2 separate regions of the Homo sapiens genome follow, and region 2 is linked to region 1. Evidence: fine-mapped expression QTL. Tissue or cell type: tibial artery. Region 1 holds a variant in brackets; the other region holds the start of a gene. All regions are shown on one strand. Distances are between the middles of the regions. Region 1 overlaps ZC3H3 (zinc finger CCCH-type containing 3). Region 2 holds the start of GSDMD (gasdermin D).

What was found. PIP is the estimated chance that this variant, and not a neighbour inherited with it, causes the effect. A credible set is the group of variants that fine-mapping cannot tell apart.
Region 2: GSDMD starts here. The variant in region 1 is the best candidate, but not a certain one, in a credible set for the expression of GSDMD in tibial artery (GTEx, PIP 0.56).

The regions. Positions count from the first base shown.
Region 1 is chr8:143,487,026-143,491,398 of GRCh38, forward strand. The region is part of intron 4 of ZC3H3 (zinc finger CCCH-type containing 3); the gene reads right to left. Among named protein-coding and RNA genes, the nearest start is that of SNORD149, 17 kb to the right of the region's middle. RefSeq lists enhancers at 755-1,292, 1,293-1,829. The variant C/G (reference allele first, on the strand shown) is at 2,515.
Region 2 is chr8:143,556,106-143,560,473 of GRCh38, forward strand. It overlaps GSDMD (gasdermin D), which reads left to right and starts at 2,241. Exons shown (of 11, transcript NM_024736.7): 1 at 2,241-2,346; 2 at 3,227-3,447; 3 at 3,672-3,864. The coding sequence starts at 3,231. It overlaps LOC100310756 (a long non-coding RNA gene), which reads right to left and starts at 2,166. Exons shown (of 1, transcript NR_147504.1): 1 at 714-2,166. RefSeq lists an enhancer at 2,056-2,697.

The DNA.
Region 1 (4,373 bases):
ACACGACCCCACCACCACGAAGCTCAGACACAGAACAGCACCCGCTACACGGCCCCACCACCACGAAGCTCAGACACAGAACAGCACCCGCTACACGGCCCCACCACCACGAAGCTCAGACACAGAACAGCACCCGCTACACGGCCCCACCACCACGAAGCTCACACACAGAACAGCACCCGCTACACGGCCCCACCACCACGAAGCTCACACACAGAACAGCACCCGCTACACGGCCCCACCACCACGAAGCTCAGACACACAACAGCACCCGCTACACGGCCCCATCACCACGAAGCTCACACACAGAACAGCACCCGCTACACGGCCCCATCACCACGAAGCTCACACACAGAACAGCACCCGCTACACGGCCCCACCACCACGAAGCTCACACACAGAACAGCACCCGCTACACGGCCCCACCACCACGAAGCTCAGACACAGAACAGCACCCGCTACACGGCCCCATCACCACGAAGCTCACACACAGAACAGCACCCGCTACACGGCCCCATCACCACGAAGCTCACACACAGAACAGCACCCGCTACACGGCCCCACCACCACGAAGCTCAGACACAGAACAGCACCCGCTACACGACCCCACCACCACGAAGCTCACACACAGAACAGCACCCGCTACACGACCCCATCACCACGAAGCTCACACACAGAACAGCACCCGCTACACTGCCCCATCACCACGAAGCTCAGACACAGAACAGCACCCGCTACACGGCCCCATCACCACGAAGCTCAGACACAGAACAGCACCCGCTACACGGCCCCATCACCACGAAGCTCAGACACAGAACAGCACCCGCTCCACGGCCCCATCACCACGAAGCTCACACACAGAACAGCACCCGCTCCACGACCCCATCACCACGAAGCTCACACACAGAACAGCACCCGCTACACAGCCCCATCACCACGAAGCTCAGACACAGAACAGCACCCGCTACACGGCCCCATCACCACGAAGCTCAGACACAGAACAGCACCCGCTACACGGCCCCATCACCACGAAGCTCACACACAGAACAGCACCCGCTACACGGCCCCATCACCACGAAGCTCACACACAGAACAGCACCCGCTCCACGACCCCATCACCACGAAGCTCACACACAGAACAGCACCCGCTCCACGACCCCATCACCACGAAGCTCACACACAGAACAGCACCCGCTACACAGCCCCATCACCACGAAGCTCAGACACAGAACAGCACCCGCTACACGGCCCCATCACCACGAAGCTCAGACACAGAACAGCACCCGCTACACGGCCCCATCACCACGAAGCTCACACACAGAACAGCACCCGCTACACGGCCCCATCACCACGAAGCTCACACACAGAACAGCACCCGCTACACGGCCCCATCACCACGAAGCTCACACACAGAACAGCACCCGCTCCACGACCCCATCACCACGAAGCTCAGACACAGAACAGCACCCGCTACACGGCCCCATCACCACGAAGCTCAGACACAGAACAGCACCCGCTACACGGCCCCATCACCACGAAGTTCAGGAACAGGCAAAGCCAATCAAGGTAGGCAGAGAGCAGAAAAGCAGGTGCTCATGGGGTAGACATGAGTGGGAAGAGCCAGAGGGAAGCTTCCAGAACTCATGCCATCTTAGGTAGGAAAGGCTGTTCTCAGCACATCAATACATGAAATCTCAAGAGACTGGCAGATTTAAGTGCACAGAAAAGTAAAAACTTCTGCAAACATCCTCACGAAATTCAAAGCGAGGAAAATGACAAAAAGGCGACTCCCCCTGAACACTTGGAGTTCCATGAATCCATAAGAAACAAGCCAGCTGGAGACAAGCGAATAGGGAACACAAACCATGTTGAACTTGACCAAGAATTAAAGTTAAGCCTGGATGGCACCCTCCTCAGATCCGCTGTCCATGTTTCTGCCCGTGGCTGCTGACGCTGACGAGGCCCGGAAGGGCCAGCAGTCATGCCCCCTCTGTCCCCCAAGCCAGTGGCAGCGCTGACCCCCAGGACTGTTCATCCAGATGAAGGCGCTTCTCTGGGAAGGGCCTAAGACCAGCAATGAGAGGAGTGAGGTGGGGCCTGGGTGGGGATCAGCTTGTGTCTACCTGGCCAAATGTCATTGCCTGCAGGGAGCCTTCCAGGCTGCAGACACCAGAGAAAGGTTGGAGCTGGGTCTGGTACCTATGCCCTAACTGAATCCTATCCTTGCTCTGCCACTCTCCATGACTGCTAGTACCCACTGGGCAGGGGACGCCCCAGGTGGGAAGGGCTCAGCCAGGGCCTGGTTCCAAGAAGCTGGGTAGGGTGGGGTGGGGGAGTCCTGGAGGACAAGCAGCCAATGGAAAGGAGGGAGCTGGGGCCCCTCAGCCAACCTTTGGGGGGATGCGCCCTCCCACCGCGGCTGGGCCACGGAGCCCCGCCCACCACCGCCTGGCCCCGCCCACCGCCCTGGCCAGGGGAGAGGGGCCAGGGGAGGAGCTGGCTGGAAGCAGCCTC[C/G]GCAGGCAAGGGGGCGCCTTGCCCCTGTCCCGCCCCAGGACCGCCCCAGGCAAGCCAGAGCACTGAGGGTACTGAGCTGGGCCATAATTTATGCCCGCCCGCCTATGCTTTATGGCTTTCTTAATTCGGCTCCTGCTACTATTAATGTAGTTAATGCTGAGATTATATCTATTTTCTGGCGTCAGGCGGTGATTTATTCAAGCCATTTTTCCGGTGGAGGCTCCCACGCTGTTAAATCAAGCGCCTTGCCAATTAAGTGCTGACTTGGGAAGTGGACGCAATCTTAGCAGACGTCCAACCGCAAATTAAACCGCGCCTGACTCTGGGGAGTGGACGGGGCAGCGGGACCCTTGCTGACTTGCAGGAAAGTCAGGAAAGTGGTGGGTGCATCCTACCCACTGTGGTCCCTGGGCCGGTCCCTGGGCCTGTCCCTGAGCCACGGGTCTCTGGAACTGCAGCCCACACCCACACTCCAGGCCACAGGGTTCCAGGGAAACACCCTTAGACACCCGTGGTTCCTAAACCACGCCCAGCAAGCACCTGACACACAGGGCCCTGGCAGGTACTGGGGATGGGGCAGGGGCGGCGGGGGTGAAGGGGGCCATGAGGAAGGTGGGAGCCTCCCCAGCAGGTGGGTGGGGCTGCACAGTGCTCAGCAGCTGGGAGGCCCCCCGGGGCCTGGACCCTGCAGGAGTCTCACCCACGGTCCCATCTCTGAGGGCCCACATAGCAATACAATAGAAAGGAGGTAGGGAGGCCAGGGTTGGGGGCAGCCAGGCTAAGGACTCCCACCCCCAACAGGCCCAGCTCTCCTGAACACTCCTGTCCCCTGTGGGGGCCTCAGTCCTCTGTCAGGCACTGTCCACATGCCAACTGCAGTGACCACCCAGGCCCAGCCCAGAGACCACCCGGGCCCAGCCCAGAGAACCTGCTGTCACCCTCCTCCCCAGTGGGGCCCTGGGACAAGGTAGGCAGATGTGCCACCCTTGTCCATCTGCCAGATACTCAGCCCAGCCTTGAGAGGTTAATCATGTTTTGGGGTGAGATCTGGCTGGAGGATTGATATATTCGAGAAGTTAAATAAGATACTGATGGCCGGGTGCAGTGGCTCATGCCTGTAATCCCAGCACTTTGGGAGGCCAAGGCAGGCGGATCACTTGAGGTCAGGAGTTTGAAACCAGCCTGGCCAACATGGTGAAACCCTGTCTCTACTAAAAATACAAAAATTAGCCATGAGTGGTGGTAGGTGCCTGTAATCCCAGCTACTCCGGAGGCTGAAGTGGGAGAATTGCTTGAGCCCAAGAGGCAGAGCCTGCAGTGAGCTGAGATTGCACTCCAGCCTAGGTGACAAAGCAAGACTCCGTCTCAAAATAAATAAACAAATAAATATTGACTATGTAAATGATACTTTACGACCACCTCTAAAACCAAGGTAAAGTGGTATTTAAAACGGCGGCACCCAGGTAGCGCCGGGTGACAAGGACATTTTATTTCTTCCTGTCAGGGGTGGTTTTTCAGTTTCCAGGAATGTCCATGCTTGCCCCTCCCTCCAGGGAGCCCAGGCACCAACTGGCAGACACACACATATCCACGGCTGGGCAGATGGGGCAGGAGGGCCCAGGCACAGGGGGCTCCGCCCTCCCCGGCCTGAGGGGAATTCCACGGATCCCACAGGAACCCCCGGGGGGCCCTTGAGCTCCCTCCCCGAAGGTCCTTGTGCAAACTGAAGGAAGGCTCCCTCCAGATTTGTCACCAGACACTCCCTGCAGCCTGTCCCTGCGATGCCACTGCCGGCCCACACGGAACCACGCTGTGGCCTGCGGTTCCGCCAAGGTGGCAGCAGCATCTCACCAGGGAGC
Region 2 (4,368 bases), 69 kb after region 1:
GAGGGTGAGACAGGAGAATTGCTTGAGCCCGGGAGGCAGAGATTGCAATGAGCTGAGGTTGTGCCATTGCACTCCAGTCTGGGCAAAAAAGAGCAACACTCCGTCTCTCACACACAGACACAAAATTAGCCGGGTGTGGTGGTACATGCCTGTAGTCCCAACTACTCGGGAGGCTGAGGCAGGAGAATCGCTTGAACCTGGGAGGCAGAGGTTGCAATGAGCTGAGATCACGCCACTGCACTCCATCCTGGTGACAGAGCAAGACTCAGTCTCAAAACAAAAACGAAAACTTTGCCAGGTGTGGTGCTGAGCACCTGTAGTCCCAGCTACTCAGGAGACTGACAGGAGGGGATCACTTGAGCCCAGGAGGTCGAGGCTGCAGTGAGTGGTGATTGTGCCACTGCACTCCAGCCTGGGCGACAGAGAGATCTTGCCTCACACAAAACAAAACAAACAACAAAAAATACACAAAACAGCCAGGAGACAGCACCAGCAGGGACCCGCAGGGCACCACTGTGTCCCCACTGTGGTCAGGCCTAGGAGTGGGGCCGAAGCCCAAGTAGCCCCATCCACAACCGCGGAGCGGCTGGGAGGGCCGGGTGGGAGGACTACCGTGTGCAGGGGTGGGCCCATGGCCCTGGGCCCACCATGACTTAGGTCAGTAGGGCACTGAGGGAGCCTGTGCCGAGACTAGGTGTTGCTACTGGGCACTAGATTTTTAAAATAACTGCTTTAATGAGACATAATTGTGTAATTCCCATACCATACAATTCATCCATTTAAAGTGTGCAATTCTGTGGGTCTTAGCATATTCAGAGGTATGCAAACATCACCAACGGCCAATATCAAAACACTTCCTCACCCCAGAAAGAAACCCCAAACCAGCAACCGTCGCTCCCAACCCCCGTCCCGGGCACCGGCAGCGCCATCTCCCTTCTTCCCTCTGGACGTGCCCATTCGGGACACATCACGTGAGCAGGATCACGCCGTCCGCTCCGTGTGCCTGGCTTTTCACTTAGCATGATGTCTCCAAGTCTGTGTCGCCCGTCTGTGTCGCCCAGTGCATCAGGGTCTCATTCCTTTTGACCGTGGGCGCCGTTCTACGGCCTGGATTCCAGTGCCTGGACTGGCCATGTTTAGTCTATGCACGCCTCAGTGGATGGACAGGGTTTCCACCTTGCCGCTATGGCGAAGGATGCTGCCGCTATGGCGAAGGATGCTGCCGCTATGGTGAAGGATGCTGCCGCTTTGGCGAAGGATGCTGCCGCTATGGCGAAGGATGATGCCGCTGTGACGACAGCTGCTGCCGCTGTGGCGAAGGATGCTGCCGCTGTGACGACGGATGCTGCCGCTATGATGAAGGATGATGCCGCTGTGACGACGGATGCTGCCACTATGGCGAAGGATGCTGCCGTGAACTTTGGTGCACAGGCATCTGTTTGCGTCTTTGCTTTCAATTCCTGTGGGTGGAGCTAGGAGTGGAATTGCTGGGTCACACGGTAACTCTTGGAGGAGCTGCCAGGCTTATTCCAGAGGGCCGCACGGGTTGACATTCCCACCAGCATTGCACAAATGTTCCAGTGACTCCACGTGCCCCCCGCGCTGGTTATTCACCTTTAGTAATACGACCATCTTTGTCAGTGTGCAGTATCTCTCTGTGGATTCCATTTGCATTTCCTTGATGACTAAGGGTGTTGAGCATCTTTGCATTTGCTTGAGGGCAATTTCTACATTTTGTACATCTTTGGAAGATCTGCCCAGACCCTTCGGCACAGGCCCAAAGTTGTTTGTTTGCTTGTTTGTTTTTGAGACGGAGTCTCACTCTGTCGCCCAGGCTGGAGTACAATGGCATGATCTCGGCTCACTGCAACCTACACCTCCCAGGTTCAAGCGATTCTCTTGCCTCAGCCTCCCAGGTAGCTGGGATCACAGGCATGCGCCACCACGCCGGGCTAATTTTGTATTTTTAGTAGAGACGGGGTTTCACCATGTTGGTCAGTCTGGTCTTGAACTCCCGACCTCAGGTGATCCGCCCGGGCACAGGCTCAGAGTTTTAAGAAAAACCACAAAGTGCTATGAAGTTTGAGGCTACCAGGATGGGGCGCCAAGCCAAGGTTCCTCCGGACGCGCGAGGCTGGTGCTCCAGGCGGGCTGGCGGGAAGAGGGGGCAGGAAGGGGGCCGGGGCGGGCTCTCCGGGACGGTTCCGGGAGGGCGTCCTGGGCGGGCCCTGCGTCAGGTTGCAGTTTCACTTTTAGCTCTGGGCACCTCCAGCTCCTGCTCGCCGGACGGCTCCCAGGGAGAGCAGACGCGCCAGACGCGCCACCCTCGGGGCGCCGACGGTCACGGTGAGCTGCGCCCCGCCCCCTCCCCCGGCCTGGCTGGAGCTCCCGAGTGGGGCCGGCCGCTGGCTCCCGGGTGGGGGATGCTGGCCCTGCTGCCCCAGCGTTCGCCCAGAAGGCCCCGCGCCGCACACGGGGGCGGAAGCTCCAGGCTTCGGGAAAGGCTGCCCCTGGCCAGCCCAGGGGCCCGGCCTTTGGACCTGGGCTTGGGCTTGACTCCCAGGTCCGCCATCCAGGTTCCCGGGCCGGTGCTGTTCCCGCCCCCAGCTGCCTTCTGGGCCCAGCCTCCACTTTCAGCAGACCCAGCACTCAGAGGCTTCCTGGGGCAGCTGCAGCCCCTCCACAGTGGCCCAGGTGCCCCCTATCCCAGCGGAGGCCCGCTATGGCCTCTGACCCCCAAAGCCTCAGCCTTGGACAGGTGGCTCATGGAGCTCCAGGCACAGAGAAGGCCCTGGAGGACGCAGCTGGGGTGGGGCGACACTCTGGCTGGGTTTTGCAGTGGGTCCCTGGTGACACTCTGGCTGGGTTTTGCAGTGGGTCCCTGCACCACGCTCAGGAGGTGACAGCTTGTTTCCTCCCAGCCAGAGGCAGCCATTCTAGTGGACAGAGCCCTCTGTGTTAGAGCAGGTCTGGGCGTCAGGCCTCACTGTCCCTGGCTGGAGGTGCTCATGGTACCGTAGACAACAGGGAGAACACTGTAATTCTGTGTTGGGGAGGGCCGGGGACAGAAGCTTTCTGCTAGTGGGAGCATCCCAGGATGAGCTGGGCAGGGCTGTTCTGGAGGGAAGGAGTCCCCCATCATGGGAGACATCCAAGTACTGACCCTTCTCCCACTCCCTCCCGCCCGCCCCGAGAGCACAATGCCTGACCCATTTCCCCTCCTCAGGAGCATGGGGTCGGCCTTTGAGCGGGTAGTCCGGAGAGTGGTCCAGGAGCTGGACCATGGTGGGGAGTTCATCCCTGTGACCAGCCTGCAGAGCTCCACTGGCTTCCAGCCCTACTGCCTGGTGGTTAGGAAGCCCTCAAGCTCATGGTTCTGGAAACCCCGTTATAAGTGTGTCAACCTGTCTATCAAGGACATCCTGGAGCCGGATGCCGCGGAACCAGGTGCCTGATGTGGTGCTGAGGCAGAGCCCCAGGGAGGCTGGATGGGAGAGGGGAGCGGGCTGGGGCCAACCATCCACTGGGCTCTGCAGCCTCTAGCTCTGGGCCTCTCTTCCAGAGGCCGGGGCCTTTCCAAAGGTCCCTCTGCCCTGGGGCTGGGACAGGGCTGGTGGGGGCGGGGGAGAGGCGGGGCGCTGGGCACAGCCTCAGGTCTGGCCTTGCTTTAGACGTGCAGCGTGGCAGGAGCTTCCACTTCTACGATGCCATGGATGGGCAGATACAGGGCAGCGTGGAGCTGGCAGCCCCAGGACAGGCAAAGATCGCAGGCGGGGCCGCGGTGTCTGACAGCTCCAGCACCTCAATGAATGTGTACTCGCTGAGTGTGGACCCTAACACCTGGCAGACTCTGCTCCATGAGAGGTGGGCCCGAAGAGGGCAGGGCAGGGCAGGGCCCCACCTACCCCAAGCAACCCTGCTTTTATTTATTTATTTATTTAAATTATTTTTTGAGGTGAGGTTTTGCTATCTCGGCCAGGGTGGTCTTGAACTCCTGGCCTCAAGCAGTCCTCCTGCCTCGGCCTCCCAAAGTGCTGGGATTACAGGGGTGAGCCACTGTGCCAGGTCCCAGCCTTGCTCTTGGGAAGGTCACAACCTTGGGGCATCAGGAAAGTCCCAGAGGCAAAAGAGCGCTGTGGCCGGAACCAGCTTGCAGGAAGGAAGCTGCAGGGGTCATCTGGGGCCTCCGCTGCCAGGACTGGATCCTAAGGACCGGACTGAGCCCCAGGCTGCTGTGAGGACAAGGGGTGGTGTGAACACGGGGGCCCAGGTGAGGGGGCCGCACCTCGAGTCTGGACTTGGAGTCCCCGAGTCCACCTTTCCTCATGGGGTCCCGTCCCCGTGGGGAGCACACGGAGAGGCTGCCGG